Regions from separate parts of the Homo sapiens genome. Here all the other regions are linked to region 2. The links come from fine-mapping of genetic effects on gene expression. A gene starts in region 2. Each other region holds a variant in brackets. All regions are shown on one strand. Distances are between the middles of the regions. Region 1 overlaps SNF8 (SNF8 subunit of ESCRT-II). Region 2 holds the start of ATP5MC1 (ATP synthase membrane subunit c locus 1). Region 3 has its middle 5.9 kb from the start of SNF8.

What was found. PIP is the estimated chance that this variant, and not a neighbour inherited with it, causes the effect. A credible set is the group of variants that fine-mapping cannot tell apart.
Region 1: its variant is the best candidate, but not a certain one, in a credible set for the expression of ATP5MC1 in hippocampus (GTEx, PIP 0.58).
Region 3: its variant is the best candidate, but not a certain one, in a credible set for the expression of ATP5MC1 in lymphoblastoid cells (GTEx, PIP 0.83).

What each region holds. Positions count from the first base shown.
Region 1 is chr17:48,933,431-48,937,430 of GRCh38, reverse strand. It overlaps SNF8 (SNF8 subunit of ESCRT-II), which reads left to right. Exons shown (of 8, transcript NM_007241.4): 4 at 307-411; 5 at 1,189-1,261. Among named protein-coding and RNA genes, the nearest start is that of SNF8, 9.4 kb to the left of the region's middle. The variant G/C (reference allele first, on the strand shown) is at 2,242.
Region 2 is chr17:48,891,192-48,895,191 of GRCh38, reverse strand. ATP5MC1 (ATP synthase membrane subunit c locus 1) reads right to left here and starts at 2,405. Exons shown (of 5, transcript NM_005175.3): 1 at 2,282-2,405; 2 at 1,736-1,783; 3 at 743-820; 4 at 1-36. The coding sequence starts at 1,774. It overlaps LOC105371814 (a long non-coding RNA gene), which reads left to right. Exons shown (of 4, transcript NR_135674.1): 2 at 2,515-2,945. RefSeq lists enhancers at 1,603-1,652, 1,693-1,802, 2,383-2,502, 2,513-2,972, 2,610-3,589.
Region 3 is chr17:48,948,761-48,952,760 of GRCh38, reverse strand. It overlaps the pseudogene RNU1-42P. Among named protein-coding and RNA genes, the nearest start is that of SNF8, 5.9 kb to the right of the region's middle. The variant T/C (reference allele first, on the strand shown) is at 1,651.

The DNA of each region.
Region 1 (4,000 bases), 42 kb before region 2:
GTCTTGAACTCTTGGTCTCGAGCGATCCACCTAGCTCGATGTCCCAAAGTGTTGGAATTACAGGCGTGAGCCACTGCGCCCGGCCAGAAATGACTTTTAGATTGCCTGCCCTCTGGAGCCGTCTGACCCTGTTCTTCAGCAGGAGTTACCGTGAGTCCGATTGTTTCCTGAGTAGCAGATGGAGCAGAAGAACTTCATGCCATGCAGGGAAGACTTCCCATATGATAGATGTTTTAATGCAGGTTTGAAAGAAAAGAAGGGATGTAAATTAATCAATAACCGAGATTTTGTTTTTCTGTCTTGTAGCTGGAAAAGGATTTTGGTCTGAGATGCTGGGCGTGGGGGACTTCTATTACGAACTAGGTGTCCAAATTATCGAAGTGTGCCTGGCGCTGAAGCATCGGAATGGAGGTGAGGGTGGCTAGGTCCTGTGAACTGGACTCTGGACTTCTCTGAGAGGGAGAAAACCGTAAAAGATTATCGTTTCCATCCTGCAGTCTACAGGCCTCTAAGGACTTGAGAGACATCTTAGCTGTTTCATGCAGTTGAATCCATGGCAAGTCTCCATGGCCAAGGGTAAATAGAATTACCTGAACGATTGTCTCTGTTCTCCAAAGATCTTTGGCCAGGAAGGTCTAGTCCCTAGTCAGTACAGAAAATAGTAGAGAGGTAGGAAGTAGGCCTTTTCCCCTGATGTCTGATGTGTCTGGAGTGATTTTCTCATTAGTAACTATAGTCCTGCACTGTCTCTCCGACGTATGGGAATGCCAACTGAGTCTGTGTTCCCTAAAATGTGACCTTAAAATTTGTCATCTGGTGATGCCATCTTTCTTAGTAAGCACGTTAAATGGTGTGGATTGAAGTTACAGAAAGAAAACTTAAAACCATTTACAAATCATCATCAACTATAAATAGACACGGCCTTGATGTCAAGAGGACATTTATAGTTTTTCAAAGATGATACTGCTTTTGTTTTTAGATTTTCGTAGCTCTCTGTTGACAGGCCTAGCAAGGTCTCAGAATCCATTTCTCATATTATGGTCAGTTATTTCATAAGGAGAGTGTTAAAAAAAAATTAGGAACTAGAATGTTATTTGCTACTTGTAGGCCACTGGAATTGTAATGACTGTCAACTTATTTAAAGTGGGTAATCTCTTTTTCTGATTTCTGTTCCCTGTCTCCAAACAGGTCTGATAACTTTGGAGGAACTACATCAACAGGTGTTGAAGGGAAGGGGCAAGTTCGCCCAGGATGTCAGTCAGTAGGTCTTGTCTTCCAATCCCTTGGAGTACAGAAAGAGGTCTTTAAAATTCAGATGGAACTCTTTTCTCCCTATTCCTCATGTCTAGGCTAGCTTAGAAATCTGTATGATCTCCATATCATACAGGAAAAAAAAAAACAAAAAACAAACAAAAAATAAGAGATAGGGTCTCACTTTTGCCCGGGCTGGAGTACAGTGGCATGATCACAGCTTACTGCTACCAAGATCATTGCTTACTGCAGCCTCAAACTCTTGGGCTCAAGTAATCCTCCCACCTCAGCCTCCCAAGTAGTTGGGATTATAGGCATGGGCCAGTATGGCTGGCTATTTTTAGAAAACAGAAAATATAGATTTAAAAAAGGAAACAAAAACCATTATTTCTCAATTAAGAGATTACAACTGCTATATATTTTAATGTAGTTCCTTCTAAGCATTTTTTCATGTATTATTTTTTAACAAACTTGGGGCTATATATAGTCTTTTTTTTCTTTGAGAAAGAGTCTTGCTGTCACCCAGGCTGGAGTGCAGTGACCCGATCTTAGCTCACTGCAACCTCTGCCTTCTGGGTTCAAGCAATTCTCGTGCCACAGTCTCCCCAGTAACTGGAATTACAGGTGTGCACCACCATGCCCGGCTAATTTTTTTTTTTTTTTTTTTGAGACAGAGTCTCACTCTGTCGCCCAGGCTGGAGTGCAGTGGCGTGATCTCTGCTCACTGCAAGCTCTGCCTCCTGGGTTCACGCCATTCTCCTGCCTCAGCCTCCCGAGTAGCTGGGACTACAGGCGCCCGCCACCACGCCCGGCTAATTTTTTGTATTTTTAGTAGAGACGGGGTTTCACTGTGTTAGCCAGGATGGTCTCGATCTCCTGACCTCGTGATCCACCCGCCTCAGCCTCCCAAAGTGCTGGGATTACAGGTGTCTGCCACCGCGCCTGGCCGCCTGGCTAATTTTTGTATTTTTAGTAGTGATGGGGTTTCAC[G/C]TTGTTGGCCAGGCTGGTTTTGAACTCCTGGCCTCAAGTGATCTGCCTGCCTCAGCTTCCCAAAGTGCTGGGATTACAGGTGTGAGACACCACGGCTGGCCAGGGCTGTATATAGTCGTGAGATTATTTGAGGCCAAGGAGAGTAGTGTAGGTGCCTAGAAAGGCTGGGGAAGGAGGTGGTAGTGAGATGATGGAATATAAATTGATCTAGTTCTCCAGCCTCTATGTGCGAGTCCAGTTTGAGAAAAGATAAAAGGCTGTTTTTGATGTAACTTCCAAAGAGTCAGCCTACTATGAGATCTTGAAGACCTAGAATATTCAAAGAAAAGTAACGAGGCTGGGTGCAATAGCTTACACCTGTAATCCTAGCCCTTTGGGAGGCTGAGGTGGGAGGATCGCTTGAGGACAGGAGTTCGAGACCAGTCTGGGCAGTGTAGTGAGACCTTGTCTCTACAAAAAATAAAATTAGTTGGGTGTTGAGGCATGCACTCATTGTTCTAGGCTGCAGTGAGCTATGATTGCACCACTGCACTCCAGCCTGGGATATAGAGCAAGACGTCATCTCTACTTTTTTTTTTTGTTTTTTGAAATGGACTCTTGCTCTGTTGTCTAGGCTGGAGCGCAGTGGTACAATCTCGGCTCACTGCAACCTCCGCCTCCTGGGTTCAAATGATTCTTCTGCCTCAGCCTCCTGAGTAGCTGGGATTACAGGTACCTGCCACTGGCGCCCTGCTAGTTCTTGTATTTTTAGTGGAGATGGGGTTTCACCATGTTGGCTAGGCTGGTCTCGAACTCTCGGCCTCCCAAAATGCTGGGATTACAGGCGTGAGCCACCGCGCCCAGCCAAGACCTCATCTCCTAAAAAAAAAAAAAAGGAAAGTGATAACAAAAGATTACTAGCCATACTCATTGCAGATTTCATGAAGAGAGGGTGAGCATTTGAAGCATTTCAGTTTGCTATTCTTTGGGGGTTGGAGAATGCATTCCAATCTACCTAAAAGTGCCCTTTCCCTGGCTGTTTGGGTGATAACATTTTTTGAGCTTTGGCAGAGGTTTTAAACTCTGTATGTGGGCTGGATATGTGATCTACACACTGTTTTGTAGGTTTTCTTTTTCTCTGATTTCAATTAGAATCAGAAAACTTGGCAGTATTGGGTTTGAATTGCCACTTGGCAATAATAGTCAGCTGGGTTGCCCCCTTTAAAATAGATAAGCATTCTCTAGTTTGCCACAGGTGACACTACCCCCATTGCCTCTTCAGCTCACTCATTCACATTTCCTGATGGGCATCTGCAGGTGTATCTTTGACCGCTGTCTGGATGTTGGAATGAGTGGTTCGCTGAGCAGACAGCCTGACTCCTGTGTATCTCCCATGATTGTCCAAGCATCACTTATTGCTCCTTGACCCTGTCTTTTTACTGACGTAGTTGAGTGTTGTGCAGCCTTTTATTTTAGAGGCAGGGTCTCGCTCTGTCACCCAGGCTGGAGTACAGTGGTGCACAATCACAGCTCACTGCAGCCTTGAACTCCTGGGCTCAAGTGATCCTCCTGCCTCAGCCTCCCAAGGATTATAGGCGATTGCCACCATGCCCTGCTAATTTTTTATTTTTAGTAAAGATAAGGTCTTGCTGTGTTGCCCAGGCTGGTCTCTAACCCCTGGGCTCAAGCAGTCTTCTCAATGTGGGCATCCCAAAAGTGTTGCGATTATGGGTATGAGCCATTGCGCCTGGCAGTTGTGCAGTCTTCTAAATTTTCTGTC
Region 2 (4,000 bases):
TCTGGCCACCTGGAGTGGGAAGTTGCTGTAGGAAGGCTAGAAAGAGAAGCAAGGCAGGCGAGATAGCAGAGAGATAGTATGGCATAAGGACAGGTGGCTGACTCTACCTCCTTCACCCCACCCACCTGAGCTCTGAAACTGTTGGCAAACTGCCTGGTAAATGCAGAATACTCTGATTGCAGAGTATGCTGGGAATTAGTCTTAGAGTCTGTTGTCAGACAGCAGACAGGACTAGGGAAATTTCATGGGTTAGGCACACCTCACTTTTATAAGTTTCTTACCTACAAGGCTTACCTTGGGGGACTTAGAACTATTAAAGCATACAGATTCTCCAACTCTCCTCCCACTTTGGTCTAAAGGCAACTTAAGCTGAAGGACCCCTGTCTGGGAACATTCCTTGATTTAAAAAAAATTAATTAATGGGTTTTTATGAGTCAGGGTCTTGCTCTGTCACCCAGTCTGGAGTGCAGTGGCATAGTCACAGCAGTCTCGACCTCTGGGATTAACCAATCCTCTCATCTCAGCCCTGGAGTAACTGGGACTACAGCCACATGCCACCACACATGGCTAATTTTTTTATTTTTTTTGTAGAGATGGGGTTTCACTGTGTTGCCCAGGCTGGTCTTGAACAACTGGGCTCAAGTGATCCTCTCGCCTCAGCCTCTCAAAGAGCTGGGATTACAGGTGTGAGCCACCATCCTGGGCCTTGGGAACATTCCTAAGAGAGCTATTCCTCCCTTACCTGTTTAGATGAATTCACTGGGCTATTCAAGAAGGAGGCAGACACAGGCCTGATTAGACCCCTGGTACAACAGCGGATCTGTAAAATCAGAAAGCCACATCCTACCAAATCAGTCAAGGAAAAAAAATCCTAATTGCTGAGCTGTCAAAAATGACTACAGATTTCATAAACAGAATAAGTTCAATGTATTTCAAGGTCAATTTATTCCTGTTCCTATCAGATAGGCCTGCCCCAGAGACAGCTGTCTCAATAGCTTGATATAGTCAGCAGTGGCAACCTTCACCATTCAAAACCAAACCAAAGTTCACTTCTTTGGGCACAGCTTTAATCAGCTTCTCAGAATGGAACAAGAACCCACACTAATACCAAAGCAGGTACAGGAAAGGTTTATACCCAGATCACCAAGTAATCAGATGGGGGAAATTTTATTCTGCTAAAATACACTCACAGCTACACACCCTAAATGGAGTGGGCCAGTCAGCCCCGGAAACCGACTGGAATAGCCATCCAAGGAGAGCCATCTGTAACATGGCTTTTTTGAAATAATTTTTAGTGCAGTGGTTCTCAAACTTGGCTGCACGGTGGAATCATCTGGAGAAGTCTTAAAAGATACAGATGCCTGGGTTCCACCCCCATTCCCAAAGTCTGATGCAAATGGTCTAAGGTGCAGCCTAGGCATCAGGATTTTAAAAAGTTCCCTGGATGATTCTAACGTGCAGCCACTGTTGAAAACCACTGTTTTAGTGGGCTGTCTCTATGGCCAGGACAGACTGGGGATAAAAATCAAATCCAGACTCTCTGACCACATTCCAAAGCCAAGATAGCTTGGTTCACAGGCCCAGATAAACAGGGGTTACCTTCATCACATCCTACAGCCACCTCAAAGAGCCTACATCATCAGGACGCCAAGCTCCCCTGGGTTCATTCATTAAACACTGATGGCGTCCACACCATACACCTGGTACTACAGAGCACTGCGGCGCGGCACCTTACCAGAGCTGGAGAAATGAATAATGCCCCGGCGGTCTGCATTTTTTCAGTCTGCAGAGGGGGAAAAAATAGTAATAATAATCCCACTGAGACCCTGGTTGTTTGCTTATAATGACGACCTTTGGTCGTCCCCTTCACCCCCGTCCGTCCTCCCTAGACCACGCTCTTCCTTGCACCGTGCCCCAGCTGAGGAGGGCATTAGAGGTCAGAGGGACAGAGCAGTGGGTCTTCAAAGCAAAGTCATGGAGATCGGAAGTCAAGGAAATGTGCCCAAGCCCCAGGAAGGAAATGTTGCGAAAGGGAATGGTCTCTCGGGAAGACTGGAGGCGGATACTGGGCAGGTGTCGCGCAGGATCCTGCCCATCTTACACAGCAGTCCCCGACCCGCCCCAGCCGAGGCAGTCAATCGTTCATTACCGTTGGTAATTAACATTCATTGATAAGGCCATATCTAGATTGCCATAGCCTCTCCCAGCACTGGGGGGAAATACCCCTCCACACTGCCCAGCCCACAACCCTGCCTATTGCTGGCTCCCGGCCCCAAGTCACCTGCACTCCTACTACCCTGCAACCCCTGCTTGGCCCACAGCGCTCGCCCGGCTCAAGGTGACAGACTCACCTCCCAGCTTTAGCCCTTGGTCTCAGCGCTCAGCTTCCCCCACCCACGTGTCCTGGACCTTCTCCATTCTCATTGGCCGTAATATCCCCGCGTCCCCATTGGTTGACGTCATCGATTCCCCACTCTTATTGGCTTTCCGCAGCTGCTTCCTCTCCCTCCACAGGAGCTTCGTGGCAATTCCCGCCTCCATGCGGATAGAGGCGGGGCTTTCCTACGAGATCTGGATTACGATTGGCCGATCCCTGAAACGCTCGACCATAGAGTTGGCGGGACTCAGAGGTTCCATAACCTCGCGCACAAGATGGCGACCAAGGTGTACGCTGAAGAAAAAGGCGTGGGAGAGATGACGGGACGTGTGACGCAGTCAGACACATGACTTTGGCCCCGAGCCTTCATTCGGGCGCTTGGGCCACGGGGCGCGTTGCATGTTGGGATTGGTAGTTGCGCTGAGGGGGGGGGCCCAAGGACAGCTGAGATCCCGCGAGATATTCTAGGCCGGGAGAGCCGATGCCTTTGCAGTAATTCCCACCGTGGAGGTTTGTGGAAAGACCGCTTTCCATGGAGAGTAAAGGCCGGCTGGAAAGTCCCCAAGCGGTGAGCGCAGTTTTGTGGACCTCAGCCGGTGTTCAGCAGTCATGGACTATCATCCAGATGGCTTTCTAAAACATTTGTTGGGCCGGGTGCAGTGGCTCACGCCTGTAATCCCAGCACTTTGGGAGGCCGAGGCGGGCGGATCACCTGAGGTCAGGAGTTCGAGATCAGCCTGACCAGCATGGTGAAACCCCGTCTCTACTAAGAATACAAAAATTAGCCGGGCATGGTGGTGGCGCGTGCCTGTAATCCCAGCTACTTGGGAGGCTGAGGCAGGAGAATCGCTTGAACCCGGGAGGCCGAGGTTGCAGGGAGCCGAGATCGCGCCACTGCACTCCAGCCTGGGCAACTGAGCAGGATTCCGTCTCGGGGGAAAAAACAAACAAAAAAATTGTTTATTTTGTAAAAACAACACTGAAAGAATGAAATAATATCCCTATAGAAAAACGAGCAAAGGATAGGAACAGGCAATTCAGTAAGGAAGAAATATGAATTGCAGGAACGAATGTCAGCCTTCCTAATCAAAGAAATATAAGTTTAAACGCTCCGCTTAGTACTGCTCAAAACAGCAGAGTTCTTTTTATTAATGTGAGCCACACGCTCTCCTATATTGCTGGTGAGAGGATGAATTAGAAAACCTTCCTTGAAAGCAGTTTGGCAATATTTATTTTTATTCAAAGGCTGTGAATGGGCCATCCTCTTTGACCCAGTAATTCTTGAGTAACTAAGAGCCTTTAAGCTCTCCATCCACTTTTCATCCAGTAATATCACTTCTAGGAATTTATTTTGAAGAATCAGAAATGCAGATTCTTTTAAAAAGATGTGCATTTGCAGAGTTTGTCGAAATTGGAAACAAGTAAATGTTCCACTGACAGTAAAAGGTGAAATAAGTTATGATATTTTCACTTGATGAAATAAGCAGAAATAAAACAGGAAATAAAATCATGTGTTTTTTTTGAGACGGAGTCTCGCTCTGTTGCCAAGCTGGAGTGCAGCGGCGCTATCTCGGCTCACTGCAAGCTCCGCCTCCCGGGTTCACGCCATTCTCCTGCCTCAGC
Region 3 (4,000 bases), 58 kb before region 2:
GAGCTGAAAGAAACCTTAGAGGTCAACTGGAGGCTGAGTGCGGTGGCTCACGCCTGTAATCCCAGTATTTAGGGAGGCCAAGGTGAGAGGATGGCTTGAGCCCAGGAGATCAAGACCAGCCAGGGAAACAAAGCCAGACCTTGTCTCTATGACAATTTAAAAAAATTAACCAGGCATGGTGGCATGCATCTGTAGTCCCAGCTGCTTGAAAGGCTGAGGCCACAGGATCCCTTAAGCCCAGGAGTTCGAGGTTACAATGAGCTATGATGGCACCACCGCATTCCAGCCTGTGTGACATAGTGAGACCCTGTCTCCAAAAAAAATAAAAATAAAAATAAAAGACCATGTTCTAGCCGGGCGCAGTGTCTCGCGCCTGTAATCCCAGCACTTTGGGAGGCCGAGGCAGGTGGATCACCTGAGGTCAGGAGTTCGAGACCAGCCTAACCAACATGGAGAGACCCCATCTCTACTAAAAATGCAAAGTTAGCCGGGCGTGGGGGCGCATGACTGTGGTCCCAGCTACTCAGGAGGCTGAGGCAGGAGAATCGCTTGAACCCAGGAGGCGGAGGTTGCGGTGAGGCGAGATTGCACCATTACACTCCAGCCTGGGCAACAAAAGCGAAACTCCGTGCCCCTCCCCGCAAAAAGACCATGTTCTTAGCCACCCTGCCACGAAGCCAATGAGTCACTTAAAGCAAACGAGGGATTCCATAATGGTCAGCATTCAGTGATGTGCTGGAAGCAGGCACAGTGGCGAGTGCCTTGTCCCATCTACTTGAGAGACTGAGGCAGGAGGATCACTTAAGCCCAGTTGTTCAAAGCTGTAGTGCCCTGTGATGGCACCTGTGAATAGCCACCGTACACCATCCTGGCAACATATCAAGCCCATGATCAGAGTATTTACACCATGGAGATAGGCAAATGCTACAAATCAGGGTTCCCCTCTCCCAACCTGGCAAGGTAGTTGTTAAACCCTTACCAGGATATCACTGGTCAGCATATTTTCCCTAAAATTATAAAACGGTACAAAGGTATCTGCATAGGAGGATGAGCATGTCTGCCTGAGTGTGGCTACACTCAGCATAGCCATTGAGGTCCATTTCGTGCATCTAAGGGACTAGGCATAGCCAGGCATGGTGGCTAACGCCTGTAATCCCGCACTTTGGGAAGCCAAGGCAGGTGGATCACCTGAGGTTAGGAGTTCAAGACCAGCCTGGCCAATGTGGTAAAACCTTGTCTCTACTAAAAAGCCAAAATTAGCCGGCCATGGTTGCGAGCGCCTGTAGTCCCAGCTACTTGGGAGGTTGAGGCAGGAGAATCTCTTGAACCCAGGAGGCAGAGGTTGCAGTAAGCTGAGATCACGCCACTGCACTCCAGCCTGGGCAACAGGAGCGAAACTCGGTTTCAAAAAAAAAAAAAGTCCAGGCGCAGTGGCTCATGCTTGTAATCCCAGCACTCTGGGAGGCCGAGGCGGGCGGATCACCTGAGATCAGGAGTTCAAGACCAGCCTGACCACCATGGAGAAACCCCGTCTCTAATAAAAATACAAAAACTTGGCCAGGCTTGGTGGCACATGCCTGTAATCCCAGCTACTCCGGAGGCTGAGGTAGGAGAATAGCTTGAACCCAGGAGGCAGAAGTTGCAGTGAGC[T/C]GAGATCGCACCATTGCACTCCAGCCCAGGCAACAACAGCGAAACTCCATCACAAAAAAAAAAAAAAAAAAAAGGGACTAGGCATGTGTGTATGCATTTGAAGGCATGAATGATTAAATCTAAGGTCTTCACTGTGAGCGAGCGGATCAGTGTGTATACCTTAGGGCACTGTATAATGAGTCAAAGAGTAAGGGAGGAAGCAGGTATATCTAGATGGTGTCAGTGAGTACCTATGGGACCAAGTTTTGTGTTTGGAAGCTATGTAGTTAAGACCTCATATGATGGCTGGGGGTGGTGGCTCATGCATGGTATCTCAGCACTTTGGGAGGCCAAGGTGGGTGGATCACTTGAGGTTGGGAGTTTGAAACCAGCCTGGCCAACGTGGCGAAACCCTGTCTTTACTAAAAATACACAAATTAGCCAGGTGTGATGATGTGCGCCTGTAGTCCCAGCTACCCGGGAGGCTAAGGCAGGAGAATTGCTTGAACCCGGGAGGCAGAGGTTGCAGTGAGCTGAGATCATGCCATTGCACTCCAGCCTGGGCAACAGAGGAAGACTCTGTCTCAAAAAAAAAAACAAAAAACAAAACAAAACAAAAGGCCGGGCGCAGAGGCTCACGCCTGTAATCCTAGCGCTTTGGGAGGCCGAGGCGGGCAGATTGCCTGAGCTCAGGAGTTCCAGACCAGCCTGGGTAACATGGTAAAACCTCGTCTTTACTAAAGCACAAAATATTAGCTGGGCATGGCAGTGTGCACGGTAGTCCCAGCTACGTAGGAGGCTGAGACAGAATTGCTTGAACCCAGGAGGTGGAAGTTGCAGTGAGCCGAGATTGCGCCACTGCACTCTAGCCTGGGCAACAGAGCGAGATTCCGTCTCCAAAAAAACAAAAAAAAAATTAGATTTGGCAGCTGGGCAAGATGGCTGACGCCTGTAATCCCAGCAGTTTGGGAGGCCAAGGCGGGTGGATCACTTGAGGTTAGGAGTTCAAGACCAGCCTGGCCAACAGGGGTGAAACCCTGTCCCTACTAAAACTACAGAAATTAGTCGGGCATGGTGGCAGCTACTCGGAAGGCTGATGCAGGAGAATCGCTTAAACCCAGGAGGCAGAGATTGTAGTGAGCTGAGATTGTGCTACTGCACTCCAGCCTGGGCAACAAAGGGAAACTCCATCTAAAAAAAAAAAAAAAAAAAAAAAAGCCAGACGCGGTGGCTTATACCTGTAATCCCAGCACTTTGGGAGGCCAAGGTAGGCGGATCACCAGAGATCGGGAGTTCGAGACTAGCCTGACCAACATGGAGAAGCCCCATCTCTACTAAAAATACAGAATTAGCTGGGTGTGATGGCGCATTCCTGGAATCCCAGCTACTTGGGCGGCTGAGGCAGGAGAACTGCTTGAATCCGGGAGGCAGAGGTTGCGGTGAGCTGAGATCGCGCCATTGCACTCCAGCCTGGGCAACAAGAGCAAAACACCATCTCAAAAGGAAAAAAAAAAAAAGAAGAGATAGATTTGGCTTCAAATAACAGGAAAACACAAAATAATAGTGGCTTCAGTAAGACAGGACATTATTTCTCTTTCTCATAAACACTCAATACTTACCTGGCAGGGGAGATACCATGATCCTGAAGGTGGTTTTCCTAGGGCGAGGCTCATCCATTGCACTCCGGATGTGCCGACTCGCGATTTCCCCAAATGTGGGAAACTCGACTGCGTAATTTGTGGTAGCGGTGGACTGCGTTTGCGCTCTAGTAAAATTAAAAATAAAAAAAAAAAAAATAGGCTGGGCTCACGCCTATAATCCTACCACTTTGGGAGGCCAAGGCGGGCGGACTGCCTGAGCTCAGGAGTTCAAGACCAGCCTGGGCAACATGGTGAAACCCCGTCTCTACTAAAATACAAAAAAAAAAAAAAAAAAAAAATAGCTGGGTATGGTGGTGTGCTCCTGTAGTCCTAGCTACTCGGGAGGCTGAGGCAGAATTGCGTGAACCCAAGAGGCAGAGGTTGCAGTGAGCCAAGATCGTGCCACTGCACTCTAGCCTGGCGACAGAGCAAGACTCTGTCTCAAAATAAATAAATAAATAAACACTCAGAGATTGGTGGCCTAGGGCTAGTATGACAGTCTGCTCTGTAAAATCCTTAGGGATCGAAGCTCATTGGACTCATGGTTCCACCATTCCTCTAGGTCCAAAATGGCAGCTACATGTCTTGCCATCAACCTTTGCTCTCATCCTCTTTTTATCATTTTACTTGAAACCTTCCTAGTAAAATTCACATTCATGATTTCACTGTGTTGATTCCAAAACTGTAACTCAGTCCAGCTCTTTTTATTTTTATTTTTTGAGGCGGGGTCT